Linked DNA regions of Homo sapiens. The protein of the gene in region 1 interacts with the protein of each later gene in a pairwise test. Each region holds a gene or a part of one and is shown on either strand. Other genes may lie near its edges.

Region 1 (15,602 bases):
GCACCGTTCTGCTTCACGTTGACAAAACATCTCGACTTGCAGAGTGGAAGGATCTGCAATCCAAACACAAAGCCATCATCCTCCACTCTTTGAGAAGTCCATCATCCTCCAATAGGTCAAGTGTTTCTCTGCACATTTAGGGGTCTGTATTCTTTCTGCCCAGACTTGCCCTTTCCTGCCCATTGGGTCCCATGTGCCTCTATGGTTGGGCCAATGATCAATACACAGATATACCTAAAGCCCCTCCCCATCTGTGTTCTTCCCTCCCCTCTCTTACTGCCTGCCTCTGTTTGCCCACCCCATTCCACACTTACCACTGGTCTTTATCTGGGGTTTGATGTCACAAAGGAGCATCCTGAGGTCTCGCCCCACTTCTCCCAGCGTTTGGGTCAATTCTCCCCAAGTGCTGGTGGCATATACCTTCTTCCCCAGGAGGCCCAGAGGTTTGACCATGTTGTTGTCACTGTTGTACTGAAGGAAAAGATTTTTATTCAAGAAGACCTGCGCTTCACACCAGGGCTGTCCAGGTCTGGACAATGATTTTATAGTGAAGTTGAAGCAAAGAGAGTGACCACCTGTGAGACAAAGATGCAGGTGAGGTCCAGGACAGGGGAAGAGGCCCATTAGAACCTGCGCTTCTGTGACCCAAGACTCCCTGGACTGGGCCAGGCTAGCAGAGGCGGGGCAGCTCCATCCCAGACTCCCTCAACCTTCTGGATCCCTGTTCCCATCTCTCCCTGACTGTCTGGGATGAGATACTTGATGGTACCAGGGACCCCTGGGGTGCACTTAGTGTTAATGGTGTTAACAGGAGGATTCATGTCACAAGTACTTTTAGCAACATCTACCAAGTTCTGAGGCACAAAACAGACAAGCCAGTGTATGACCTCCTGAGACTTAAACTCTAGCTGAACACACATGACATTCAATAGAAAGGAAAAAGAGGCATTTATCACAGGACACACGCTGAATTCCTGTGGGGTCCCAGATGTTCAGGAAAGTGACCTGGAGTAGAAGGCGGGGGGTAGCATTGTAGAACTGCCCTCTGTGAGCCAGTGCCTTGCCTAGGGCCTCAGGCTGTGGTCTCCCATGAACTGGGTGTAACATCCCAGGGATCCTCTTCCTCACGTCATCCTTAAGAGCAGGCACCCACTTGTCTGAAGCCTGCATGAAGCCCCATTCGCCTACCCCCTACCTTTCTCCCTCCTCCTTGTCCTCAGCCAGTTCTTGTGCTCAGGACACTCACCAACCATGATCTCCAAGGCTATTAGTAGCAACAGCAGAAACAAAAGAAGGCGCACAGGGCTAGAAGTCAGGGATATTCTTCGCATACTGTGGAGAGTAACAGGCAGGAAGCTGGGCGTGTACACATTCACCCTCACTGGTATGGTGAAGAAATGTTATCCAACAGCGTGGGTGTGGGCACTGCCCAAATTCTTTACCCTGGAACAACTGAGGTCAGGCCTGTAGAGACCCAATTAAAGAACAATTTTGTGAAGAGAGTGTTTTCCAAGTATTCAGAATATAATCATTTATTGAAAAATAAAAGAAGACATTTAAAAACAAAATTAACTTTGAATAAACTCTCTCTCCTCTCCTGTCCCTGCTGCCCCTGCAAAAAAAACCCCCTCTGGTGTGAGCAGGATGGTTGGAGGTTATGTGAGCTCCTTCTCCTTTCCTCCAGTTTCCTCTTCCCTTCTCCTCCCTGCCTCTTTTGCTTTTCCCTTTCTTCCTGGTACCCCCTGCCCATTCCTGTATTTTCTCCCATCGCCATTCTCCCCTCTCCCACTGTCCCTAACCCGTTCAAACTCTTTCCTCTTAAATGGTTGAGATTTTCTCTCACCAAGCACACCCCAGTATTAATTAAACTAGCTGCAAACAGGCAGCAAGTGGTCTACCATGACAGATGGGTTTTGTGTGTGTGTGTGTGTGTGTAATTGTAATAAAACATATTGAGTCACTCAATAAACACAGAGTGTCTACTACATGTATCAGGCACTATCATAGATGCTAATTAACGAAACTGAAATGGCCAGGCCCTCACAGTGGCTCATGCCTATAATCCCAGCACTTTGGGAGGATGAGGCAGGAGGATCACTTGAGGCCGGGAGTTCAAGACCAGCCTGGGCAACATAGTAAGACTCCATCTCTACAAAAAAAAATTTTTTTTTATTATACTTTAAGTTTTGGGTTACATGTGCAGAACGTGTAGTTTTGTTACATAGGTATATACGTGCCCTGGTAGTTTGCTGCACCCATCAACCCATCACCTACATTAGGTATTTCTCCTAATGTTACCCCTCTCCTAGCCCCCCACCCCGTGACAGGCCCTGGTGTGTGATGTTCCCCTCCCTGTGTCCATGTGTTCTCATTGGTCAACTCTCACCTATGAGTGAGAACATGTGGTATTTGGTTTTCTGATCTTGTGATAGCTTGCTGAGAATGTTGGTTTCCAGCTTTATCCACGTCCCTGCAAAGGGCATAAACTCATCCCTTTTTATGGCTGCATAGTGTTCCATGGTGTATACGTGCCACATTTTCTTAATCTATCATTGATGGACAAGTTTTGCTATTGTGAATAGTGCCACAATAAACATACGTGTGCGTGTGTCTTTATAGCAGCATGATTTATAATCCTTTGGGTATATACCCAGTAATGGGATCACTGAGTCAAATGGTATTTCTCGTTCTAGATCCGTAAGGAATTGCCACACTGTCTTCCACAATGTTTGAACTAATCTACACTCCCACCAACAGTGTAAAAGTGTTTCTATTTTTCCACAACCTCTCCAACATCTGTTATTTCCTGACTTTTTAATGAACGTCATTCTAACTGGCGTGAGATGGTATCTCATTGTGGTTTTGATTTGCATTTCTCTAACGACCAGTGATGATGAGCATTTTTTCATATGTCTGTTGGCTGCATAAATATCTTCTTTGGAGAAGGGTCTGTTCATATACTTTGCCCATTTTTTGATGGGGTTGTTTTTTTTCTAGTAAATTTGTTTAAGTTCTTTGTAGATTCTGGATATTAGCCCCTTGTCAGATGGATAGATTGCAAAAATCTTCTCCCATTCTGTAGGTGGCCTGTTCACTCTGATGATAGTTTCTTTTGCTGTGCAGAAGCTCTTTAGTTTAATTAGATCCCATTTGCCAATTTTGGCTTTTGTTGCCAGTGCTTTTGGTGTTTTAGAAAGGAAGTCTTTGCCCATGCCTATATCCCGAATGGTATTGCCCGGGTTTTCTTCTAGGATTTTTATGGTCCTATGTCTTATGTTTAAGTCTTTGATCCATCTTGAGTTGATTTTTGTATAAGGTGTAAGGAAGGGGTCCAGTTTCAGTTTTCTGCATATGGCTAGCCAGTTTTCCCAACACCATTTATTAAACAGGGGATCTTTTCCCCATTGCTTGTGTGTGTCAGGTTTGTCAAAGATCAGATGGTTGTAGCTGTGTGGTGTTATTTCTGAGGCCTCCATTCTGTTCCATTGGTCTATATATTTGGTACCAGCACCATGCTATTTTGGTTACTGTAGACTTGTAGTATAGCTTGAAGTCAGGTAGCACGGTGCCTCCAGCTTTGCTCTTCTTGCCCAGGATTGTCTTGGATATGCAGCCTCCTTTTTGGTTCCATATGAAGTTTAAAGTAGTTTTTTCCAGTTCTGTGAAGAAAGTCAGTGGTAGCTTAATGGGGATAGCATTGAATCTATAAATTACTTTGGGCAGTATGGCCATTTTCACGATATTAGTGCTTCCTATCCATGAGCATGGAATGTTTTTCCATTTGTTTATGTCCTCTCTTATTTCCTTGAGCAGTGGTTTGTAGATCTCCTTGAAGAGGTCCTTTACATCCCTTGTAAGTTGTATTCCTAGGTATTTTATTCTCTTTGTAGCAATTGTGAATGGGACTTCACTCATGATTTGGCTGTCTGTTTGTCTGTTATTGTTGCATAGGAATGCTTGTGATTTTTGCACATTGATTTTGTATCCTGAGACTTTGCTGAAGTTGCTTGTCAGCTTAAGGAGATTTTGGGCTGAGATGATGGAGTTTTCTAAATATACAATCATGTCATCTGCAAACAGAGACAATTTGACTTCCTCTTCTCTTGTTTGAATGTACTTTATTGCTTTCTCTTGCCTGATTGCCCTGGCCAGAAGTTCCAATACTATGTTGAATAGGAGTGGTGAGAGAGGGCATCCTTGTCTTGTGCTGATTTTCAAAGGGAACGCTTCCAGTTTTTGCCCATTCAGTATGATATTGGCTGTGGGTTTGTCATAAATAGCTCTCATTATTTTCGGATATGTTCCATCAATACCTAGTTTATTGAGAGTTTTTAGCATGAAGTGGTGTTGAATTTTATCAAAGTTCTTTTCTGCATCTATTGAGATAATCATGTGGTTTTTGTCATCGGTTCTGTTTATGTGATGGATTACGTTTATTGACTTGTGTATGTTGAACCAGCCTTGCATCCCAGGTATGAAGCCAACTTGATCGTGGTGGATAAGCTTTTTGATGTAATGCTGGGTTCGGTTTGCCAGGATTTTTGCATCAATGTTCATTAGGGATATTGGCCTGAAATTTTATTTTTTTGTTGTGTCTCTGCCAGGTTTTGGTATCAGGATGATGCTGGCCTCATAAAATGAGTTAGGGAGGATTCCCTCTTTTTCTATTGTTTGGAATAGTTTCAGAACTCCTCTTCTTGAGGAGTATCTTTGTGATGTTCTCTGTATTTCCTGAATTTGAATGTTGGCCTGCCTTGCTAGGTTGGGGAAGTTTTCCTGGATAATAACCTGAAGAGTGTTTTCCAACTTGGTTCTATTCTCACTGTCACTTTCAGGTACACCAATCAAATGTAGATTTGGTCTTTTCACATAGTACCACATTTCTTGGAGGCTTTGTTCATTCCTTTTTATTCTTTTTTCTCTAATCTTGTCTTCTCTCTTTATTTCATTAAGTTGATCTTCAATCACTGATATCCTTTCTTCCGCTTGATTGATTTGGCTATTGATACTTGAGTATTCTTCACAAAGTTCTCATGCTGTTTTTTAGCTCCATCAGGTCATTTATGTTCCTCTCTACATTGGTTATTCTAATTAGCAATTCGACTAACCTTTTTTCAAGGTTCTTATCTTCCTAGCATTTGTTAGAACATGCTCCTTTAGCTTGGAGTTGTTTGTTATTATTCACCTTCTGAAGGCTACTTCTGTTAGTTCGTGAAACTCATTTTCTGTCCAGTTTTGTTCCATTGCTGGCGAGGAGTTGTGATCATTTGGAGGAGGAGAGGCGTTCTTGTTTTTGGAATTTTCAGGCTTTGCGCACTGGTTTTTTCCTATCTTTGTGGATTTATCCACCTTTGGTCTTTAATGTTGGTGACCTTCAGATGGGGTCTTTGAGGGGACGTGCTAATCCTTTCTGTTTGTTTCTTTTCCTTCTAACCATCAGGCCCCTCTGCTGCCAGTCTGCTGGAGTTTGCCGGTGGTCCACTCCCAACCCTGTTTACCTGGGTATCACCAGCGGAGGCTGCAGAGCAGCTAAGATTGCTGCCTGTTCCTTCCTCTGGAAGCTTTGACCCAGTGGGGCACCTGCCAGATGCCAGCCAGAGCTCTCCTGTATGAGGTGTCTGTCGGCCCCTACTGGGAGGTGTCTCCCAGTCAGTATACGTGGGTGTCAGGCACCCACTTGAGGAGGCAGTCTGACCCTTAGCAGAGCTCGAATGCTGTGCTGGGAGGTCTGCTGCCCTCTTCAGAGCCATCAGGCGGGGACATTTAAGTCTGCTATAAGCCCCTGATTGGGGCTGCTGCCTTGTTTACCAACATGCCCTGACCAGAGAGGAGAAATCTGGCAGTCTGGCCATAGCAGCCTTGCTGAGCTGCAGTGGGCTCCGCCCAGTTCCAACTTCCCAGCAGTTTTGTTTACACTGTGACCTTAAAACCATTTCCTCAAGCCTCAGCAACGGCAGAGGTCCTTCCAGATGAGTTTTGTAATAGACTCCAGCAGTCCTACTGGGGCCAAGACCTCAAGGAAAGCCAAGTCTATCATTGGGAAAAGTCTTAGGGCTCTAAGTTTTGAATTCTGAAAATTTTTCTTAGAACAAAATTTTGTGTCATTTTCAAATAAAGCACAAGTTTTCCTCATAAAACTTAGTATCTGTAGACCCCCTTCCCACCTCACTTTTACAGCTGTCCCATTTGATCATCAGACCCTGCTACCTTAGCCAGTTCAGGCTGCTACAACAGAATAGACAAGGTGGCTGAAACACCAAGCATTTATTTCTTACCTTCCTGGAAGATGGGAAGTCCAAGATCAAGGTGTCAGCAGGTCCGGTATCTGGCGAGGGCCCTCTCTTCCTCACCAGATGGCTGTCTTCCTGTTGTATCCTCACACAGTGGAGAGCAGAGACAGACAGCAAGCTCTCCTATCACTTCTTAATCCCACATGGCTCCACTCACATGAGTTATGACTTCCTAAATAGCATCACCTTGAGAATTAGGATTTCTGCATATGAATTTGGAAGGCAGGCAAACATGCGGCCTGTAACACCACCCATATCCGTTCCACATCTAGGTTCCCTCTGTGTGCCGGGCAGTATGCCAGTTAATTCAAGTGCATGTCAGACCCAGAGGGTGACATCCTGTGACTCAGATGCTAGGGCCCTTATGATGCCTGGTAAGGTAAGTGGGTCTTTACCACTGTCCTTTCTTAACTAGATGGAACAGACTTCAAAGAAAGTAACCATGGACTATCGGCAGGGCTCTATCTCTGGGGCTGGGGGATAAGGGGTTGTCTGCTCAGAGGACAGTGGGTCAAGCGTTTGAAGGAGCCGAGGAATGCACATTTTTTACATGTCCCCTATGTGGTTCTCTGTCTGCTAAGGTTAAAGAACCTCAATTTTGAGGGTGCACTTCCACCTCTTGGTCTGGAGAAGGGGTCTCAAATCTGTCCTGAGTGGAGCCTGTTCTGTACACATCCAGGCCCTGAGAGTACACAGAGAGGAACTCACTGCTACCGCCCTGCCAATACTGCTGCTGTGGGGACACCAGCGGGGGTGGGCCAAGAACAGAGTGTATGTGTGTGTTTGTGTGTGTGTGTGTGTGTGTGCATGGGTGCTTGTGTGTGTGTGCGTGCATATGTGTGATATGACCACTGAGTAGCTCCTTAGCAGGGCCAATATTTTCTACAAGTCTGATGACTCACAGGAAGGAGCACACCAGGCCTATACTTGGGTCCTGACATCTGGGATGCCAACCTAACACTGAAGAAAAAGAAAGAGCTGCAGACAGGCTGGGAAAAATATACAGAAAGGGGAAAGGGGCCCTTCCACCTTTGTTGCCCTCTGTGGTCCTGAATCTCAGCTTGGCCTGAGCCAACCTGAAGATGGGAAGGAATAGCCATTTTCCAACTGCAAAATGTCAGCTTCAGGCAATGGTTTCAAAACTGAAGTAATGGTTACATATGAAGTAGATTTTTGTTTGTTTTGTTTTTTGAGACCAGGTCTTGCTCTGTCATCCAGGTGGAGTGCAGTGGCATGAGCACGGCTCACTGCAGCCTTGAACTCCCAGGCTCAATCAGTCCTTCCACTTCAGCCTCCAGAATAGCTGGCACTACAGGCATGAGCCACCACACCCAGCTAATTTTTAAATTTTTGGTGTGGAGATGGGGTCTCATCACGTTGCCCAGGCTGATCTCGAACTCCTGGGCTCAAACAATCCTCCCCCCTCAGCCTCCCAAAGTGTTGGGATTACAGGAGTGAGCCACCACACCCGGCTGAAATGGAATTTTAATTGAAGTAAGAAGCGGGTGATAAGGAAAGTGAAACCAATAATTTCACATAGTCCCTGGAAGCCCGTTGCTATAAAGAACTTTCAGCCTGAAGTCCAAAGAGAGACGAAAATTTTAAAATGAATTGGACTGCAGTTTTCAATCCCTGAAAATGAGTCACAGCCTTTTTGTGGCAGTGTGCCCTGGGCTTCTAACCGTCCTCTCCCTGCCCCAGCTGCCTTGAGGTCCCGGCCAATGGTTTCAACACTCAGGCTAGGAATGCCAAGGCCCGGCAGAGCGAGGCTGTGGAAGCCTTGGCATAAGCGGAAGGGAGGATCTGAGGGAGAATGGGACAAGAGAAGTCGGAAAGAAGGAGTTAGGGCAGGAGAACAAGGAGAAATCCCTGTCCCCCAAATTGGAGAGAGGGGCGATTGGGACTCCAGACTGGAAGGAGGCACGGATCCCTGAGTGCTTGGTGTGGAGGCAGAGGACCCGCAGAGCCACCCCGTCCTCCCTGCCTTATCCAGCGTCCCCGCCGCCACACCCCCAGCATCTCCCCCAACCCCACTTTTACTTCATTATCTGCCCCTGGTTCTCTCACCACTCGAGCCCCTGCTTTCCTCCTTCACTCCCAAACATGCACACGTTCCCTCTGCACGGGTGTTTGGAACACCAGCCATCCCCCACCCCCTACCTTGTGCCAGCAGGAGATGTTTGTCCTTCTGCCGTCTCTAGGATGGAGAGGCCTGAGGTGACTGCTTCCTCAGAGTCTCTGTGCAAACTCTCTGAGGAGCAGAAACCAGTTCAGTCTCTCTGGGTGTGGAGAGGCCGGCCTAGCAGAACACCCGTCCACCATGCAAACCGGGTGGGGCCACCTGTCAACTGTCACGTGTGAGTGATTCTAGGACAGGGTAACTCGTCCAGAATTGGATCCAATTCAGTACTGGATTCACCATCAGTAGAAGGACCAAGACCAGACTCAAGTCCCAGCCACGAAATTCTAGAAAGGATTTAATGTAATTTTAGCAGTTGTTGGAGACCAGCATGTGATGGCATACATATGTTTTCCTTGATATGTAGGTGGGGGCCCCCACCTTTTTTCAGGGTTTAGGCTTCTGCAGGTCCTGGCATAGCTGTGACAGCGGCCCTACCTCATTTCTGGTGGGTGCTGGCTCCCTCTATTGCTTGGTTTCTGTGCAAACACTGCATTATCGTCCTGCCCTCTTGAGACCTGGAGCTCCTGCCCCCTGAGCTCGTGTTCGCACTGTGTGTCACTGAACCTCGCTGTTTTCTTCTTGCAACTCCATTCCCCTCTGCAACTGGAAGACCAGCACTTCTCCTGAGTCTTCCTTAAAAGACACCCTGCCCACTTCCTTACAAAGCCCCCACCAAAGTGACACCAGCTACTTGTGAATGTAGCCAACTTTACTGAAGATTTAGAGGTTATGTTATAAGGCTGTGAATAATTTAAAAAAAAAATCACCTATTTGCTCGACCTCTTTCTTATCTCTTCTTTGGACTAGAAATAAAATATCTATGATTTGACCACACTGTCATCTAGTACTCGACCCTGGTTCTAGGCCACCGTCCTCCTGGCCAGGGTGATTGCAGTGCTGCCCTACTTGGTTCTCCGTGCCTGTCCCCACCTCCCAAATGGCTACAGCGCAGCCAGAGTGATCTTCAGAACCTCATCACTCACGCCCCCCTCTGCTCCAATTCTCCAAAAGTGCCCTTTTTCTCTCAGTAAAACCAAAGTCACTACAGATGCCTAGAGAGCCCTGCACAGTCTGGCCAGCTGTCCATTATGCCCCCTCACTCGCTCAGTTCCGACCTCCACCCTCGGCCTCCTTGCTGGTCTTCAGAGCCCTGCAGATGTCCCCGTGCCTTGGGACTTTGCATTGCCCTCCCTTCAGCATGGACTGCCCTTCAGGCATCTGCCCGGCTCACTCCCACTCCTGCTCCCAGGTGGCACACCCTTCCACGCCTGGTTCTCCCTGCCCCTCGCATTTGGAACCCTTGTATTTCTTTCTTTCTTTCTTTTTTTAAAATTGTGGTATGATTCATGTAACGTGATTTTTCATCTTAACCACTGTTAAATGTAAAGGCCTCTATTTCATAATGGGAGACCTCTGCCTGCCCAGGCCATCCTGGACCTTCTTCACCTGAACTTGTTCCCCTAAAGCAATGACCACTTTAAAACATACCTTAGTAAGCCGCGCACAGTGGCTTACACCTGTAATCCCAGCATTTTGGGAGGTCAGGGAGGCTGGATCACCTGAGGTTGAGTTTGAGACCAGCCTGGCCAACATGTTGAAACCCTGTCTCTACTAAAAATAAGAGAATTAGCCGGGTGTGGTGGCCAGTGCCTGTAATCCCATCTACTCAGCTTATTGAGTCAGGAGAATCACTTGAAGCCAGGAGGCGGAGGTTGCAGTGAGCCGAGATCACGCCACTGCTTTGCAGCCTGGGCAACAGAATGAGACTCTATCCCTATAAACAAACAATCAAACAAACCTTATTAACTTTTAATTGTGGTTGCAACAAATTACTGCAAATTTAGTGCCTTAAAACAACATACATTCATTCTTTTACCATTCTGGAGCTCAGAAGTCTGAATAGTCTCACGGAGCTATCATCACTGTGCTGTCAGGGCTGTGTTCCTTTGGGAGGCTCTCGGGGAGAACCTGTCTCCTCCTTGCCTTTTCCAGCTGCTCAACTGCCCACGTCCATGGCTCAGGACCCCATTTCCTCATCTTCAAAGGCAGCTCCACCAGGCTGAGTCCTGGTTTACATGAGAACACTACCCCTCCATGGCTGGTTTTCCCAGGGCAGCTGATTAGCCACCTCAGCTCCATCCACAGCTTTCACCGCCCTTTCCATGTACCCCAACACAGAGGTTCCAGGGACTGGATCTGCCATCCTGAGGATTGGAGAGGGAATTCTTCTGCCCAACACACATACCATATAATTTACATATCTATCCATTTAAAATTTCTATCTCTTACTAGAATGCCATTTCTGTGAAGACAAAAACCTCATACAAGGCACAGAAAACAGCTCCCCAGGGGTGAAGGGGCTCAGATGGGCCCCCTGGCTCAGGGAACAAGGAGAGGTGTCAGGGCAGCCTCCCTGGGTCTCCAGCCTTCACAGCCGGTGCCTCCCAGGCAGGTTCCAGCCACAGCAGCAGCAAAAGAGATGTGGTGGGCAGCATCAGGCATTGGCGAGATTCCTGACACAGTTCAGTCGAAAAGAAACTTCCTAAACTGAGCTCACCTCAAGGAAGCTGGAGATAAATGCCACCTTACCCAATGGGTACATGAAATACAAATACAAATCCTTTTCCAGGTTGTGCAGGTTACAACTGGCCCAATTCTATGCCTGGTCCCCTGCCCTGTCCTGCTGTGACTTGCCAGGGTGGGGTGCTCATTGGCCTCCAGGCTCCACTCACTTTTCTGACCGCACCCAGTTTCCACCTCCAAGTCACCCCCCAGACTGCTTCTCCTTTTGCTGTTTTTTCTCAGCCCAGCAGAAATTCTAATATTCGCCAGGCTTGGCCCTGCTCAGGGCACCGGAGAAGGAGCCTCTGAGGAAAATCTTGGCACAAGGAGCAGCTCTCCCACCTGGATTTCCAGCACCCTCTGTTTTCTGGGAACTCCTGAATTTCTCTGGCCATTGGCACAGGGGCTCTGCCACGCAGTTCCCCTGGCGGCTGGCCCCTGACATCTGGCAAAGAGTTAGGAATGCAGGTGTTTCTGGCAAATATGTAGGGCCTATGAGATAAGAAAGTGGGGGAAGCAAGATCACGTAGGTTCTCTGTGAGAGAGGCCGCATGCCCAGCAGGACAGAACATCCCTGGCTGACAAGGGCCATCTTCCCCTGTCCTTATCTCTGCCTGGGCTCCAGCTCCGTCCTGCCTGACAGAGGCCGTGGAGCAGAGCACTGGGCTGCTGGTCAATGTCCTGGTCTTTAGATAGACCAGTCTCCGGATGGGGTCACAGTGGGAGAGCAGTGGGCCTGGGAGGTGCAGGGTTAGTGCAGGGCAGGGCTGCCTTGAATCTGCAGGTGCGGGGCCACCAGGCTGGACCTATCTGTATGCTCAGCACAGGAGGTTGCAGTATTGCCTGCCCTCAACCTCCTTTTCCTATTTCTGCTGCTAGAGGGCACTGGGGACTGGGGTCAGGCTGGGGGTCTTGCCATCCCCTCCTGATCTCCTCCACTCCCTGTCCACAGCTCCTGATTTCCCTGCCTGGGCTGCCCCCACCAGAAGTCTCCAGGCCTAAAATCCAGTAGGAACAGGCAGCCTAGCCTGTCCCCAGGGGTTTCTTTAGCACTTGCAGGAGTCAATAAGGCTTCAGGTAGGAAGGCCTGATGCCTTCCTCATCCACAGACGCCTAACAGGTGTTTCTGGAAATGTATCCTGTGGCAGCCAAAGAGGCTGGACTCCTCAGTGTGTTTCCAAACAGAGCCAAACACAGAGTTCATCGGTTGGAGGAGCCCAATCAGCTGCTCATTAGTGTGCCTTTGACAAGCCTTTGTACGGCGGGGAGGAAAAATGATTTTCATGAAAAAAACAAACAAACAGGAGTTTATTATCTATCTATCTATCTATCTATCTATCTATCTATCTATCTATCTATCTATCTATCTATCTATCGTCTCTTGTATATACACAGGAAACACCTGGAGAAAACAAGTAATCCTTAAAGTGCTGGCTTAGAGCTCCAGCATCTTCAACAGAAAACAATAAACGTCTAGAGAAGTGGCAGATCATGGGAAGGCCAATCTATGGCATCAGAGAAGCTTGTGGTGCCTCTGCTGCTGTCCCTAGGCCTGACAAGAGTCTGAAATTGTCTTTGGTGATCAACCTTTGTCCTTTCTGGTAGAGAAGGGAGGATACAATCAAAAGTGGCTCAATAATAACTGGAAAATAAATGGAAAAGAAAGATGTTCATTTCATCCAGGTTCTTGAATTCATTGACATACGGTTGTACATAGTATTCCCTTATAATCCTTTTTGTTTCTGTAAAGTTGGTAGGGATGTTTCTTCTTTCATTCCTGGTATTAGTCATTTGAGTTTTATCCCTCCACCATTTACCTAGTCATTCTAGGTTAAGGTTTGACAATTTGGTTGATCTTTTCAAAGAACCAACTTTTGGTTTTATTGAGTTTGCCAATGTTTTTCTATTCTTTATTTCATTTATTTACACTCCAATTTTTATTTCCTTCCATTTGTTATTTGGGGCTTAGGTCGCTTTGCTCTTTGAGTTTCTTAAAGTGAAATATCAAGTTATTAATTTGACATAATCCTTTCTTTGTCCTGTTCTTTCTCAGTATACTGGCATTTACAGCAGTAAGTTTTCCTTTAAGTGCTGCTTTATCTGCTTCTTATAAATCATAGTATGCTGTGTATTTGTTTCCATTCATCTCAAAGTATTTTCTAATTTTCCTTGTGAGTTTCCCTTTCGTTGATTGGTTCTTAGAATGTTTATAAAATTGTTTGTCTTAAAGATGATTCTGCCTGATATTATTAATAGCAATTTCAGTTGTCTTTGTTTACTATGGATGTGTTTTATCTTTTCCATATGTCTACTTTTAAACTACTTGTATCTTGGGATCTACATTGTATCTTTAGATCATTTTTTAAATGCATTCTGAGAATCTTTGCTTTTTCTTTTGAATGTTTATCACTTTGACATGTAAGGGAATTACTGCTAAGGTGGAACAGAATTTACGTCTGCCACCTTTTTCTTAGTTTTCCATATGCACTATGTCATTTTCTTCATCTTTTCCACCACTATTGCTTTGTTTTGTGTTAAACAGATATTTTCTACTGCATCATTTTACTTCCTTTATTGTCTCTTTTTCATTTTTTATTTAAAAAAGTTATTTTGTTAGTCATTTCAGGGGATTCCAATTAATATCTTAATTTACCACAACCTAGATCATATTAAAACCAACTTAATTTTAACAGGATGCAAAATCTCTGCTCCAATATTGCTCTGCTTCTTCCCCCATCTTTGTGGTATAAAAATGATATATACATAAATTATATGGCATGTGTTTTGCAAAGAATAATCACCTGCCACCCCCACCCACTCCCGCCAATCCCAGAGGATGCCGGTGTGAATCCCTGGAACCCCCCACTGGGTTATATGGAAAAGGGAGTGAAGGCTACAGATGGAGTTGAGGTTGCTCATCATCTGCCCCGGAAACGGGGTGATTTTCTGGATTTCCCTGGGGTTCCAATGTAATCACAGGATCTTTATAGAGGAAGAGGCAGACGGAAGAGGGAGAACCAGATGAGGGGCACAGTGAGGACTTAATCTGATGGAACTGCCTTTGAAGATGGGGAAATGGGCCCTGAGCCATGGATGTGGGCAGTTGGAGAAGCTGGAAAAGGGGAGAAGGAGACAGGTTCTCCCCGAGAGTCTCCTGAAATAACAGCCCTGACAACACAGTGATGTTAGCCCATTGAGATCCATTCCAACTTCAGATCTCTAGAATGGTAAGAGAACAAATTTGTGTTATTTTAAGCCACTAAATTTGTAATTTCTTACAATAGCAATCAAAAGCTAACACTGTCTGTTTTAAAGTGGTCATTGCTTTAGGAGGAAAAAGTTCAGGTTAAGAAGGTTCAGGATTGCCTGAGCAGGCACAGATACTGCCATTTTAAATAGATGCCTGTACATTTGAAAACGGTTGAAATGGCTCCTGGCTGTGGCAGGGCAGCAGGCTGGGGCCATGGCAGGCCAAGTGCAGGCCCAAATCAGACTGCAGGAGCTTCACATACACTCTGGGCAGGCACCTGCCTCTCAGTAGCTCACTGAGAGATGAGGGCACCCAGCAGGGGTCCCCAAGGGAAGGCACAAAGAGGGAGCCAGCCTGAGATTAAGGGGCTGTGAAAACAATGCTTTTCCAGAAGTCCTAGCTGGTTACCTTCACAGCTGCTTGCAAAACAGAGAAATTCTACATCCACTCACAGCAGCCATGTCCACAGGGTGCTCCAGACGGCCAGGAAGTTAAAGTCACGCCACCTGGCTGTGGAGATCAATGAGGCTGAAGTGCAACAGGAGCAGCAGGAATCCCTCCTGGGAGATCTCCAGGATGACATTCCCCCAGGTGACAGCCTACCAGGCCCGTGGAAAGCCCTGGCTAGTAACCTCACAGCTGCAGTGTGGCAAATCAAACAGAGCTGGAGTTGTCTGGTAGATCCTTGGAGCAGGTGCTGCTGCCCCACATGGACACCTTCCTGCAAGTGCATTTCGGCCCCATCTGAAAGAGCTTAAAGGAAAGCTTGCATGGCTTTTCCCCGGACATAACAAATCTGTTTCTTGATGTGGAGGCCAACACCAGGCCATCACGATGGTCCAGGATAGTGCTGTGGCCAGGGCTGACTGCCAGGAGCTTGGTGGTAAATTTGAAGCCAAGATCCAGGAAAATGCTCAGAGAGTGGGCCAGCTGTGAAAGGATGTGGAGGACTGACGGCATGCTCGGTGCTCTTCCCTGTACACTCCCTCTCTGAGGTCCAGGCTGATGTGGACACCAAATTGAAGAGGCCAAACCCAGGAGGCCCCAAGGACTAATGGCAGCTGCGTGTTGATGACGGCAGGGGCTGGGGCAAGGCCTGAACTGGAGAGCCTGCAGGCCAGGCTGGCCAACTGCAGAGGAACCTCTGGGTGCTGCACATGGACTCAGCCTGCAGGGAGGAGGAATTGCAAAACACCCCTCAGGGATATGAGGGCTACCCTGACCCGGCACGTGGATGAGATGAAGGAGCTGTGCTCCGAATTGGACGAGACCTTCCATCAGATCAGCAAAATGGAGCCAGAGATGGAGGTGAACCACA
Region 2 (15,368 bases), on another chromosome or scaffold:
TTCGCCTCCCAGTTTCAAGCAATTCTCATGCCTCAGCCTCCCAAGTACCTGGGACTGCAACCTCTACCTCCTAGGTTCAAGCAATTCTCCTGCCTCAGCTTCCAAGTAGCTGGGACTGCAGGCGTGAGCCACCACACCCGGCTAATTTTTGTATTTTTAGTAGAGGCAGGGTTTCACCATGTTGGCCAGGCTGGTATCAAACTTCTAACCTCAAGTGAGTCACCTGCCTTGGCCTCCCAAAGTGCTAGGATTACAGGCATGAGACACCACACCCAGCCTGGCTTCTCTCTATGAATATGTAGAGATATGCCTTTGGTTATGACTGTAATAATTTAATAATCTGAAATTTTAGAGTTGGAGTGAAAAAGGCATTTAATTTGTCTAGACAAAATCTGCTATAATGGTTCAGATGTGTAGAATTAATAATATATTCTCCTTTTCCAGAAAGTTACTGTGGCCCATGTCCTAAAAACTGGATATGTTACAAAAATAACTGCTACCAATTTTTTGATGAGAGTAAAAACTGGTATGAGAGCCAGGCTTCTTGTATGTCTCAAAATGCCAGCCTTCTGAAAGTATACAGCAAAGAGGACCAGGTTGAGTATTTATTTTAATTTCCCATCCTGTATTTAATCCTAACATCTGAGACAACTCACTGGAATATGAACCTAGAACATATAAGGGACACTGTGACTTGGTTATTCTAATACCAACCCTAAATCTTTCTTCATTGAAAATAACAAAGCACAGAAATTGTAGGTATCATGTATGTGTGCTCGGATGAGAATTATGCCAGTTAGTGGACAGAATGCATTTTTTTACAAGTGTGAGAACAGATGAAATGGTTATGGTCTTGCGTTTACTAAAATTATCAACACTGATTTTACTTATAGTTTATTTGTGGTTTCAAACAGGATTTACTTAAACTGGTGAAGTCATATCATTGGATGGGACTAGTACACATTCCAACAAATGGATCTTGGCAGTGGGAAGATGGCTCCATTCTCTCACCCAACCTGTAAGTCTCTGACCCAATGAGTCTCTTCTTTTTAATTTTTTTCCTAAGTTTTCCCTGTAATAATTCTAATCACTCATCTCACATAATCCCAGGACATTTGCACATTCTAATAGATTTAGTAAAAAGTGCTTAGGCCCTAAATTTGGGAGAAAGTTGTATTAGTTGTAGAGCAGCCAACACAAATACTAGTAAGTAATACAAATTGTTTACTATATGGTAAGTACTGTGGAAGGCAGGTCTAATATGTTCGTTTTACAGATAAAGAGACAGAAACAGAGAGGTTAAATATTACATACATTTCTTTTTGAATTTATTACCAGACATGTTGAGATATAATTAACATATAATAAATTGCACATATATAAAGTATACAATTTGATAAGTCTCGAGAACTATATGAGCCCATGAAAACATAAAGAACATCAAGATAGTTAACATATAAATTACCTGGAAAACATTCTCTAAGCATGCACCTTTGTGATTTCTCCTCTGTGTCCCTATGTCCTTACCTCTTTCTCTTTCCAGTCAATCAGTTTTCTGTCACTTTAGATTAGTTTGCAATTCATAGAATTTAATATAAATGAAGTCCTACAATATATATCATTTGCAATGTCTTATTTTCACTTAGAAAAGTTATCTTGAGATTCAGCCATCTCATTGCATGAGTAAAGAGTTAATTTCCTTTTATCTCTTCATTTATTGATGTATATTTAGGTAATTCCCAGTTATTGATCATTACAAATAATGCTACTTGCTAATAATATTTGTGTACAAGTATTTGTATCATATTAACGAAATCTTTCTTTCCCTTAACATAAACACCTAGAAACAAAATGGCTGAATCATATAAGTATATACTTAACTTTTTTTAAAGTGCCACACTGTTATCCAAAGTGGTGATGATATTTTACAAATTTTACTTTCTACCTAGCAGTATGTAAGAGAAAATCTGACAGAGAAGTTGCTTCACATCCTAGTCAACACTTGTTTTGATCAGCCTCTTAAATTTTATACTGGCTGGGTGCAGTGGTTTATGCCTATAATCCCAGCACTTTGGGAGGCCGAGGCAGGCAGATCACTTGAGGTCATGAGTTCAAGACCAACCTGGCCAATGCAGTGAAACCCTGTCTCTACTAAAAATACAAAAATTAGCTGGACGGGGTGGCAGGTGTCTGTAATCCCAGCTACTCGGGAGGCTGAGGCAGGGGAATGGCTTGAACCCGGGAGACGGAGGTTGCAGTGAGCCGAGATTGCGCCGCTGCACTCCAGCCTGAGTGACAGAGCAAGACCCTGTCTCATAAATAAATAAATAAATAAATAAGTAAATTTCAGACACACTAAATGATGTGTTTTGGTATATGAATGTAGTTTTAACTTGCATTTTACTAATGCAATGATGTTAAGTAGCATTTTTTTGTGTGTGCTTATTTGCCATTTAGGTAAAAATTTTCTTCTCACTGATTTCTGCTTTGATCTTTATTATTTACTGTCTTCTTATAGTAGGTTAAATTTGCTTTTTTAGTTTCTTATATTGAAAGCTGATATGTTGATTTGAAACCTTTTTTTCTAATAAAAGTTATACTATTAATATGTGAGATGATTTGGCAACATCCCGTCATATTTTGAGATACTACTTTTTGTTTCCATTCAGTTAAAAATAGTTTCTAAATTGTCTTTTGCATTCTTTGATTCATTGATTATTTACATGTGTCATTTAGTTTTCAACATTTGTGAATTTTTCAGACATTTTTATTATTGATTTCTAATTTAATTTCATTTTCATTAGCGAATTATTTTGTATAATTTAAAACTTAAATTTATTGACATCAGTGTTATGGACTAGACTATAGTGTGTTTTTAAAAATGTTTTAGGTGTATTTGATCAGAAATGTTTATTCTGCTGTTTTCTATGTATTCTATGTGATAACCTTTGAAATACAAAGTTTTGTAATATGGCTGGTAGAAACAGGCAAAATACTAGACCCTATGTTAGCACTAAGTATTGTTTACCCTAAATCTTTTCAGACAGTTCTTTCTCCATCCTGGAGTAGTTTTTTACATACATGCATTAGTAAGTACTCTGCTGAATATTCAAAGGTGACCTTCTGCATATCTTTACATTTCTTTATTTCTTCAAATCTCTTATCTCCATTTCTGTGTCCGGTGAACTACAGCTTGGTCTTTCTGGATTCTGAAGTGTCCCATGTCTGTAGTTTTTATAGCCTGCTCTTTTACCCACTTGATTGCACAGAGCAATTCAGCACACCCAGACTAAGTGACAACATCTTAATGTTCACTGATCTTATGAATATAGTTGTAATTCTCCAGATTAATGCTAGAGTATTCAAGAAAGGTCATTTCTACCATTTGAAAGATCTGACCTGTCACTACACTGTTCAGTAATTTCTTCATTCAGCTACAACGATCAGGAATGAAACCTAAGCATTTTGTCACTACTGCTTTTCCTTTTTTCAGTCTCATAATATCACAAATATTGCAGAAGTCCTCTAGATTGTAAATATTATAATTCTTTATTTCAAGGGGACTTTAGATATTTGAATTTCCAATTCTTCAATGTAATAAAAAGTCACAACAATATCAATGTTAAAATTAGGTTAATTAGGTGCTTCCTGTCTGTCAGACACAGATTTAAGCACTTAAATGTATCCTTTCATTAAATATACTTAACAATCCTGTATACAGGTGTTATTTTAACCTAATTCTAATGGTATACAACAGAATCTTAACATGTTAAATAACTCACTTAAGTTACAAAATGAATAATTGTTGCAATGAGGACTCAAATATATATATTTCTGGCTCTGGAGCCAGACTTACTATTAAATGACTAAAAAAGTGCTCTTTTCGCTGATTTTTAAATTTACTTTGCTACTTTAATGATTAATTGGCAATGATCAATGCACAACCTTTTACTCTCATGTGTTATTTTCAATTTTCCCCTTGTGTTTATTGTAGCAAGAACTCCCTACCTTCCTTCCTTATTATCTATTTGTAATTTGGAAGCCCCAGTATACCTTAGAATTGATCCAGGATGGCCTCATTTATGTATGGCTTGAGAGTTTTTTTAACAGAAAAAACATTGATTCTCTAAAAAATAAGAGTTTATATCATAGTTTCTCAATATTTTCCTATCTACAAGGACAAAATTTTTTTTCAGAAGCAAAACAACTAGCATACTAACTTTCTGTTTATGCATGTAGTAAATATTGGTTGATTACTGCACAATTTCCAGGAATTATGCAGAGATAACTACAGAGATGAGTAGAATAAAACTCATTTTAGAGCTTCAAACTCTAGTCAGAGATGTAGTTACAAACAAATAATCCAGTGTAGTTAGTTAGGTACTCTGGCAGAAGTGTAATGAAAGTAGTATGAAAAAACAGAGAAAGAAATCGAAGGAACACATGGACAAAGTGATATTAAAAAGAATGAGGCCGGGTGCAGTGGCTCACGCCTGTGATCCCAGCACTTTGGGAGGACCTGAGGTCAGGAGTTCAAGTCCAGCTTGGCCAACATGGTGAAAGCTCATCTTTACTAAAAATACAAAAATTAGCCAGATGTGGTGGCAAGTGCCTGTAACCCCAGCTACTCCTGAGGCTGAGGGGCAGCAGAATTGCTTGAACCCAGGAGGTGGAGGTTGCAGTGAGCCGAGATTGCGCCACTGCACTCCAGCCTGGCTGACAAGAGCAAAACACTGTCAAAAAAAAAAAAAAGAGAGAGAGGAAAGAAAGAAAAAAAGAACGAGACTCTAATGTAGACTGAACCTAGTAAGAGCAGTTATTAAAAAATCTCAGCTGGGGCCGGGTGCAGTGGCTCACACCTGTAATCCCAGCACTTTGGGAGGCCGAGGTGGGTGTATTGCTTTAGGTCAGGAGTTTATAACCAGCCTGGCAACGTAGTGAAACACCATCTCTACTAAAAATAAAAAAATTAGCCGGATGTGGTGGCACATGCCTGTAATCCCAGCTACTTACGAAACTGACACAGGAGAATCACTTGAACTTGGGAGGCAGAGTTTGCAGTGAGCCGAGATTGAACCAGTGCACTCCAGCCTTGGCAGCGGAGCAAGATTCTGTCTAAAAACAAACAAACAACAAAACAAAAACTCTTTAAGAATAGTTTTCTCCCTACAGTGGCCGATTGTTCAGTTACAGAACAGAGATCATTACATCGTCTTTTTAAATAGGGATAGCATCAGACCATAATCTTTTTATTTTTTTGTCAATTTTACATTGAAGTGACATCCTCACTCTTTCTTGAGCTTTCTATTTCCCATCTCTTATGAAAGAAAACAAAGTATCATTATTAATCATATAACTCCAAAAGATTAAAGATGCCAGAGTAAAACACATATATAGATATAGAAATCTCCACATGGAATGCCTAAACATATGCACACACACACACACACACACTTATACACACTTGTGAATGTGTGTATGTATGTATTAGATTTGAAATTTTATTTTCATTTCCTTACCAAGTAAAATTGCATATATCTGAAGAAAATGTTTTATTTTTCCACAAAACACAGTATCAAATTCTAAATTGAACACTGAATTTATTTCTCACTTAAATATTTGTTTTAAAATAAACATTCTAAAGTTTTCATTTAACTTGGGTATACATATGAAGAGATTTTAGACTTCAGAATTGGCTAGTTTCTGATGTATGATAAAAAGAGTGGCGCATTATTTATAATTTTTATTTTTATTATCTGAGTTGGCTATATTTTGTTTATGAATTAGGACCAGGCATGGTCCATAATCTCCTAAAATGGTATTAAGTTCCTGTATTTGAAGTTCAATAGGTATGATTCATTTTTATTTTCCCGCGTTAATAAAATCATGTATGTAATTTGTAATTGTCTCTCCTCTAGACTAACAATAATTGAAATGCAGAAGGGAGACTGTGCACTCTATGCCTCGAGCTTTAAAGGCTATATAGAAAACTGTTCAACTCCAAATACGTACATCTGCATGCAAAGGACTGTGTAAAGATGATCAACCATCTCAATAAAAGCCAGGAACAGAGAAGAGATTACACCAGCGGTAACACTGCCAACTGAGACTAAAGGAAACAAACAAAAACAGGACAAAATGACCAAAGACTGTCAGATTTCTTAGACTCCACAGGACCAAACCATAGAACAATTTCACTGCAAACATGCATGATTCTCCAAGACAAAAGAAGAGAGATCCTAAAGGCAATTCAGATATCCCCAAGGCTGCCTCTCCCACCACAAGCCCAGAGTGGATGGGCTGGGGGAGGGGTGCTGTTTTAATTTCTAAAGGTAGGACCAACACCCAGGGGATCAGTGAAGGAAGAGAAGGCCAGCAGATCACTGAGAGTGCAACCCCACCCTCCACAGGAAATTGCCTCATGGGCAGGGCCACAGCAGAGAGACACAGCATGGGCAGTGCCTTCCCTGCCTGTGGGGGTCATGCTGCCACTTTTAATGGGTCCTCCACCCAACGGGGTCAGGGAGGTGGTGCTGCCCCAGTGGGCCATGATTATCTTAAAGGCATTATTCTCCAGCCTTAAGTAAGATCTTAGGACGTTTCCTTTGCTATGATTTGTACTTGCTTGAGTCCCATGACTGTTTCTCTTCCTCTCTTTCTTCCTTTTGGAATAGTAATATCCATCCTATGTTTGTCCCACTATTGTATTTTGGAAGCACATAACTTGTTTGGTTTCACAGGTTCACAGTTAAGAAGGAATTTTGCCTCTGAATAAATAGAATCTTGAGTCTCATGCATATCTTGTTTGATGATATTTAGATAAGATTTTGGACTTTAGACTTTACAATTGATTCCGTAAAAAGCTAAGACTTGGGGTTATTAGAATGGAATTGTTTGAAATGCTTGTTCCCCGGTGTCATAAAGAAATAGGACTTGAACATAAATTTAATTTATTTAGTAAGGCCATTTTTTACTTCCTGCAGAAAGGGTACACTCACTAGCAGTTCTGCCATGAGAGTACACCGAACAAAGGAGACAGGGTCATTTATAACCTGACATGTCCACACTACTGCTGTGTCCGGTTTCCACTGGCTGGAACGGGACCTCACATTCTGTATTTGTCCCGATTGGCTAGCAACTTAGAACTTTTTAAAAGAGGCAAAGGTAGAGGAGAACAAAGGAAGGAGGAAGTAACTTGTGGAATGCTGAGAAAGATAAAAACACTTTTAAATAAGGAAGAGGAACAGGCTATGACCTAACGCTTGCTTGGACCAGTATAAGCATGCCAGGGCAAATATTTAGGAGCACAGGTCTTTGAATAAATTTTGCTTCTAAGAGAAGTTACTGTTTATTTCTAATTAGATGGGGAGGAAAGTCTTTGAAGAGGAACCTCTACTTTACTTTTTACAATATTCCCCCTTTTTTTATTTCATAATTCCTCCTCAGTCTTGTTTAATATGTTTTGACTTAATTCTTTGTCCTTCTAAGAGAGGTAATTTTTTTTCAATAGGGTGGAGGATAGTTAGGAGTTAACTCTGTAAGAGCAGCAGAGACAAGTTTTTGCATAAAACCTTGAAGGCAGGGCATAATATAACAGTCTACAAGAATAAGTACACCAATAGTAAGGGCAAACGAGGTGAGAATTGAATTGAAGTTAAATTTTTTTTTAATTTATGGTTACCTACCAGACCAACATGGATTTAAATTTTGCAGCTATTTGATTTTTGTGCTTTAAACTTATTTGGCACTTCTCACGGACCTTAATAACATTTACGTAAACCTGAGGATTAAAGGACTCAAGGAGTTTCCTTTGGCCTGCGGTGTTTTGTTTTTACCTTTTTAGATTGACGAAATGCCAGCGTGAAGCGGATAGCCAATTGGATTAGAGCACAAGTACTGCTCCAGTTATTTGGCCGAGTGTCCAGTAAAGGTCTTCCACAGTACCACTATACATTTGCTTGGGGATGGCTAAGCATGGACTGATGGGCAAGTTCTTGGAAAGGCTTGGGCTTCTTGTATCCTTTTATGCTTTCAAGGAACGCCAAATTTTCCTCCTGCCATGAGAGGCACAAAGTAAACTTGGCATTTAGAGGTGGAAGCTGGATTGCCCTCGGAGGCTGACCCGCAGGGTGTTGAATTTCAGGAAATAGCAGAGAGCGCTCAGTATGATGGATTATCCCAAGCAGTGGGATTTTGAAAAAGAACCACCATACACTCCATATCTGGATGACAAGGAGACCATCCAAGTGGAAAGGAGATAATCTGGGCCTCTGGCCTACCGTGTGTACAAGCGTAATAATCGCTTTTATTTAAAGTGTGAATGGATTATTTAATCCATTTCAGCCAGGAATTTGCATCTTGATATTTTGTCTTGATGGCTAAGGTCTGTCTTAGATATCTTATTTTTACAATAGACACCCTAGTTTTATTAGATGTAGGAGCAACTGGTGTGGGATCTAGAACTGAGGCTACTGAAGAAGGGGGAGATGGGGGAAAAATCCATATTTTAAAAATACCTAGGGGGTCTTTTCCATTTATGTCAATCCCCATACCACAGAAGCGACTAAGGGCAGGTCTAGAGTTAGTTAAGGTGGAGGTGGTGATAAAGAGAAGGACAGGGTTACACTGATAAGGCTGACAGTGAGAAGGGGTAGTCCTTTTAGTGAAATAGATGAGGGGTTTTAGATTTGCACAAACCTTTTTCGTGGAAGTCCAGCTTTGCTCCTGGGTAGTTTAAGGGATGTGGTCCCATTTACTACAAGGTTGCCAGCCTGTAGGAGCAGAAAATCAGCATCTTGGCTGCAGGTCATTACAACAATGACTGCTAGGGGTACCTGTGTCAGTTAGAGGGCTGGGACATAAATATTTGTGTGAAAAGGCTAGCTGTTGTTGATATTTTACATTTCCACAAGGTATGACAGAGCAAGAGTTAAAGGCAATGGTCTGAGGTGAGTCAGACTTAGTTACATTAATAACAACGGAGCTAGTAACAAAATACGGAAAGGAAAGGAAGCGATATAGAAGGTATATGAAAATTAAGCTTTCTTTAACTTTAACTTAGTAGGGCTTAATCCTAGTACAGTAACCCATGATTCTGAGAGGAAGATGTTTTCTTGACTCGAGTATGGTGGGACCATTTTTTTCTTGGCTGTGCGGACGGCAGTCTCAGTGGTTAATAGCATAAAATAGGGTTCTTCCCAGGCTGGCTTGAGTTTTTTTTTCTTTCTATCTTTTGATAAGGATGTGGTTTTCAGGCTGGTGCTGGTGTACTGGAAATTCTAGGGGTGCTACCTGTGCTAAAAGACTTTTAGCTCCAAGGGAAGGGAAAGTGGAAGATAGATTAAGTATATAATTTCTGCTGCATATCCTGGGGCTTGAGGCCTCATGGTTATGCCCCTTGCTCTATTCCTGCTCAGCGCTGCCCAGGAGACACTGTGGCCCTGCCCCCTCTTAATGTTTGGCCTTCTTATGGCCTTCACCACCCTGCACTCTGTGGCCTTGGGGATGAGGGTCCTTGTGACTTACCGGGTTGCCTTTAGGCCTTAAGAAAGCCAAACACCATTTTATATTTGACAATGTTTTTGTATGATTTTATACCAGATAAGTTAAATTTTACCATTATATTAATGTGCTATTGATGTTCAACTTAATTTTAATAAAATCTTGTAGACATTATTTATCCAATTTTAATGTCTAACTATAAGGTAAGACTTTTATAGATTCTTTAACTTTTTATAATTTTTGTTAAAGAGCAGGTTAGTGCTTTAAGAAAAATCTATAGTGATTTTATTGTAATATCCAGTTCACAGAAAAACTGGATGATACCCCTTTAACTTTAGCCAATATGTTAACACACAGAATTTCCTTTACAATTAACATTTTAAAACTTGCTTAAATCTTTAAAACAGAAAAAAAGTTTAGCCTTTAATGTAGGTAAAAATCTGTATTCTTATGCCTCTTTATAATCCTGTTATTAAAAGTATTTTTTTACATACCTTGTACATAAACTTTTTTTAATAATTTTACATTCAGGAGGCCTGTTTTTCAGTTATACAATATTTTTTGCATAAATTCCCTTTTATAGCTTTTCTTATGACTTTCACAGACAATCTTCAGCATGTCTTAACTTTCTGCCTTCCTTTTTCACTATTTTTCTAGTTTCACTCTCTGTATCTTCCTTTGATTTCTGTCTCTTCCAGTTTCTCTCTTACTTACTCTTTCCCTCTATTTCTCTCTCTCTCTCATTTGCGCTCTATTTTCCTCTCTCTCTCTCTCTCTCTCTCTCATCCTGTTTCCCTTTCTTTTCCCAAGTTCTCCTGCTCCTGCTGCGAGCCCTGCTGGGCCATGGCACGGGCCCCACCCCCACGCACACGCAGCTGTCTGTTTCTCCTGTGTTTTTTATTTTTCCTGATTTCCCTTTTTATATTTTTTCCTTTCTTTTTACACTTAGTTTCTCTGGCTGGGTGGGTGGGATTTGCCCGGCTGTAGTCTGGGCCCCAGGCAGTCACCGGCCCAGAGGATTGGCAGATGCCTGCCGCAAATTGCAAGAATTATGCCCTTTCACCTCCTCTGCTCTCCTCCCGGCACCAGTCCCCAAGCTCTTTGGGGAGAGGGACTTACCCCTTGGCGTGCCTGCCTGGCTGTTTGGCTCTATGCTTGCTGTTTTTGCTTTCTTTCCCTCTGACTTCCTCTCCTAGTTTTTTTCTTTTCTGCTGGTCTTTCTTTTTTCTCCACCTGTAGCAGGATTGATAAGGAATCAGGAACACCAAGGGGTTGAGGAGGATTTTTATTATTTAGGTGCACTGGCCCAGTTGGATTAACATCCAAATGACTGAGCCCTGAACAAAGAGTCAAGTTATCTTTTAAGTATTTTGTCTGTGGGGGAAGATTTGTGCAGGGGGAAGCATATTACAGAAGCAAGAAACAAAGACAGTTATTCAATTGAGACATACATTACATTGTTTCTTACTTTTCAAGGAAAAGCATGTTTTATGACTTGAGTTTGTCTGTCTAGTGACCTTGCAGCTGCACAGCTAGAGAAACAGGGTCTTCACAATGCCTGGGAAAGGGAGAGATAAGGCTCACTAGCCACGGAAAAACAGGCAGTTAATTTTTAAAGGACTCCAGTTCTTTCTCTTCCTCAGGGGGAATTGGGTTTTCTTACATACAACTGAGTTTTTGCTTACACATTCTTTAATTTCTTTTAATTCCTGTTCCATTCCCCCCTTTGGTGCTTTTTATAACAAATGTGTTAACAGAAAGCACCACTATTTGCCACGTCTTCGTGGAGCTGAGCTGCTGCTTCTACCAGCAGCGACTGATATCTGGTTAATGCCATCATCTGCATGGTAGTGTATCAGGCCACTATTGCCTCCATAGTTGACTGAATACTTCTAATAAACAGGGGTAAAAGGCAAGGGAGGATGAGGCAGATGCCAAGAATAACCAAGAACCCACCAATGAGGCTTTTGAATCCTCTAAAGGCTGAGAACCATCCTCCAAACAAGGAATCCGGGGACCACCCAGACCAAGTCTGAACTGGAATATGGGCCAATGTGTGCATTCTAGCGGTGATTTCCATGACAGCTCAACCATTATCATCGATTTCTAGGCAACAGTTGGTTAAATTAAATTTTCCACATACTCCTCCTCCTGAGGCTAAGAGGTAATCTAAAGCCAATCTATTTTGATATATAGCATTCCTCATTTCTGTTGTTGTATTTTTTTCCATGTGAGTTCCTTGGTGGAACTCTTTTAAAAATCTGGGGGCCACCATTTCAGGTATGGCTAGCCTCCCATTGGATAATATTTACCATCTCCTTTTAATGTAGTTTTTATTTTTCTGGGCAAAATAAGCCCTTTCATTTGGAGTGTAGCTTGGGATATCCAGGAGAGGAATCTCTGGGAGGAGAGGCATAGCTAAGGCTTCCTCTTTAAAAGGTGGAGTTGTCATTGCAGCCTGCTTTGCCTCTTTGTCTGTTTTCTTATTTTATTTTATTTTTTTAGCCTTTAGTATTCTTCCTTTTTGGTGCCCCTTGCAGTACATCACTGCCACCTTTTGGGGCCTATACAGCATTTAAGAGCTCTAGAATTTCTTCCTTATACTTTATTTCTTTACTTTCAGCAGTTAAAATTATTTTTTCTTTGTAAATAGTCTCATGAACATGCAAAGTGGCAGAAACATATCTGGAATATGTGTAAATATTTGTCTTTTGGTCTTTGGCTAGCCAGAGAGCTCTTGTCAGAGCTATTAGTTCTGCTTTCTAAGCAGAAGTTTTTGTAGGCAAAGACTGCACCTCTACTACTGAATCCAAAGTCACCACTGCATACCCAGCTTGGCGGACTCCGTTTAGTATGAAACTGCTTCCATTAGTAAAATATTCAATGTCCAGGTCCCTGAGGGATGTATCTGTCAAATCTCTCTGGCTTAAGAACACTTCATCTATCACATTTACACAGCAACGAAGGGGGTCTCCTGGCACTGACTCGATGAGGAGCAAGGTAGCCGGGTTTAGGGTATTCACCATCTCTAAAGTCAGTTTATTAGCTTCTTGTGCCAGTAGGGCAGTAGCAGCTAGTGCTTTAAAACAAGGAGGCCATCCAAGTGCCACAGAATCTAACTGCCTGGATAAGTGTGTCACTGGGCAATGCCATGACCTTATGGCTTGAGTTAGAATCTTTATGGCCTCCCTTTCACTTGTGGACATTCAAGAAGATAAGCTTAGTTAGTTAGATCTGGCAGTCCTAAAGCTGGGATCTGAGTCAAGGCTTCTTTGATTTTTTGAAAAGCCTTCTTCTGGTTGGCCTCCTAGAGGAGGAGTCCTTCTTTCCTCCTCTTTGTGGCTTTGTATAATGGCTTAGCCACAAGCAAGAAATTTGGGATCTAAATGCGGAAGAACTTTGCTGCCCTTAGGAACTCTGTTATTCGACGCCAGGTGGTTGGAGTAGGAAGTGCACAAACAGCCTGCTTTTGTTCACTACTAAGCCATCTTTCCTCTTGGCTTATGTAAAAGCTTAAGTACTGGACACTTTTCGAGCAGATCTGAGCTTTTTTCTGACCCTTTATATCCTGCCTTTCACAGCAGTCTTGGGTTTCTCCTGGGTGCAGTAGCCCTTGGCCAGTGGTTTTTTCATACCATGGCCTTGACCATTCTCCTTATTCTTTTGACATTTATCCTTCTAGTGTCCTTTTCTTTTGCACCATGTACATTAATCTCTCTCTAGCCTTGGCTGGCTTTCAAATTGCTGTCCAGACTAGCCTTTTCCACAACTGCATTCACACCCGCATCTATGCCTCCTTGCAAAGCCAGCCTCTCTTCCCATAAGGGCTGCTGCTTGTAAATAAGCCTTTATTAAGCCTCCAATCAGCTTTCTTCTTTGCCTCCTGGTCTCAGTTAATGTACACCTTGGTAGCCACTTTAATAAGCTGAGTAGCATTCACACCTACGGAGCTTCTAACTTCTGCAATTTATGCCTGATATCTCCTTGGGCCTGCCTTACAAATGCCGTATTTACTATTCACTGATTTTCAGCAGCCTCGGGGTTAAACAGAGTGTACAAGCAAAATGCCTATAAAACTGGCTGGTGCTTTTATCTGCACCATGGAGCACTTCTGAGATTTTTTTATATTGGTTGCCTTTTCCTTTTAACATCCTTTAGCCTTTGTAAAAGTGCTTCTCGGCACTTTTGTAGGTGCTGAAGCTGGACTGCATCGTCTGGGTCCTAGTGGGGGTCTGCTTGTCCTCTTAAGAGGCAGAAGCATAACTTGGGCATGACTTGACCTGAGACGGCCTGCCTACCTTTTTGAGCCTTTCGTTTTAACTTCCTGGAGCTCCGATTTCTCCTTCTCAGGTGAGAGTGGGAGCATGTATCTGTTTGAACTTACCTCCTTAGGGGCAATTAGCCTTGGTAAGGGGGGATAGATTGGAATATAGGTAGGAAGGATCTCTATTCCATCCTGTGATTCTTGCAAAACTGGTTTTCTCTTTCCTGAGACTCTTTTTTTTTTTTGGTCTGCATAGCTTCCAGGGCAGCTGACTTTCACTTTCACTTTTGGATCGGTGGTGCTAGAAGCCTCTGTGACTTTCCCTTTAACTCCGTAGCTGCCAGCACAGTTGGTTTATCTCGGCGTGAGCTGCGAGCATTCTACAATAAACTGCTAGGCAGGGCTGCGTACATTTAGCCATGAGTCAATATAAAGACTAGGTCTGAATGCCCTGGCTGTCCTCCGACCCTAGTCACCACCTTAAAACACACGGCCAATTTCTCTACAGTGCCTTCGGCCAGCCATCTGACACTAAAAGAGGGCTATTGTAATTCACAGTATGTCTTTAACTTTTGAACATCCAGTTTCATCCCACAATCACCTCTAAATCCTTTCTTTAAAATTTTTATCATGCACTCCAAAGGAGTTGGTTTTGACGCTTTCCCTCCCATTTCCTCCCTTGCGGCACACTCTCACTCTCACTCTCACTTTCACTCTCAGGTCCAGCAGACCCGGTCCTATTACAGGAGTTTCGGACACTGCTTAGCCAGGAAGGTGTCTTCCCCTGTCACAGCCTGCTACAGCTGCAAAGCTCGTCCTATCAGCTGTATGCAATGTCCTAGGTCTGATTTCCCCCCACACTCGCCTCAGAGCACACAGCCCGTGCTAAGGGATCTGTGCCTCCCCACGTCACTCCCTGCATTGGCCTCTCCCGAGACCATCGCTTTCACACACTTTCACACACCTTCCTTGCCCCAGGATTCCTCATTGGACGAAATGAGCCTCTCTCATGTCCCGGGTGAGTCTAGTTAGGCTCCCACTTTCACACACATACACCACTCCTACTGCAGGAGTCCTCATCGGATGGAATGAGCCTCTCTCATGACCTGGGTGAGCCTAGTTAGGCTCCCATATTCACACACATACACACACCACTCCCAGTTCCTGTCTCCAGATCCAGTGAACCACTTTCACTTTGTTAGTGGGGACATAAGCTTCATCCAAATTGGCAGGCCACTCCTGCTGCCCCCAGCCACTCTGGGTTGGATTAGTGGTCAGTCCCTGGGAGGTGATCAAGCTCCCCTTTGTCCCTATGGGACGGGCTTTCCTGCCTTGGGCCTATACTCCTTACCACAGTTCCTGAAGTGCTGGTATCGTCCTGCAGCCCCATCCTCGGTTCCATTGCGCTGCCAGGCAGGGTGCTGGGACGTGGGGAGAGCTGGTCTATATATCCGGGTGAAGCTCAGCTGTGGCACACCTTGGATGCCGGGTCTCTCCTGGCCCCGGGGACCTAGTATCGCAGGCAAAGGGGACAGTAAATCTGTCATCTCCAATCCTGATGAGCCCCCAGAAATGTATCGGGATATATAAGGAATCAGAGAGA

The links.
Region 2: the proteins of RAET1E (region 1) and KLRC4-KLRK1 interact in binary tests that used the Homo sapiens proteins (3 or more experiments, as listed by UniProt).

Annotation. Positions count from the first base shown.
Region 1 is NC_000006.12:149,889,571-149,905,172, forward strand, and holds the start of RAET1E (retinoic acid early transcript 1E isoform 1 precursor), read right to left. Parts: upstream 8,544-15,602; 5' UTR 8,451-8,543; intron 6,670-8,450; exon of another isoform or gene 6,563-6,669; intron 6,561-6,562; exon of another isoform or gene 6,463-6,560; 5' UTR 6,276-6,462; intron 1,465-6,275; 5' UTR 1,332-1,464; coding exon 1,247-1,331; intron 595-1,246; exon of another isoform or gene 576-594; coding exon 315-575; intron 54-314; coding exon 1-53. UniProt on the Homo sapiens protein: Binds and activates the KLRK1/NKG2D receptor, mediating natural killer cell cytotoxicity.
Region 2 is NC_000012.12:10,363,782-10,379,149, reverse strand, and holds the end of KLRC4-KLRK1 (NKG2-D type II integral membrane protein), read left to right. Parts: intron 1-444; coding exon 445-596; intron 597-914; coding exon 915-1,018; intron 1,019-5,013; exon of another isoform or gene 5,014-5,115; intron 5,116-5,918; coding exon 5,919-6,036; 3' UTR 6,037-6,797; downstream 6,798-15,368. Other genes in the region: KLRK1 (NKG2-D type II integral membrane protein), read left to right, coding at 445-596, 915-1,018, 5,919-6,036.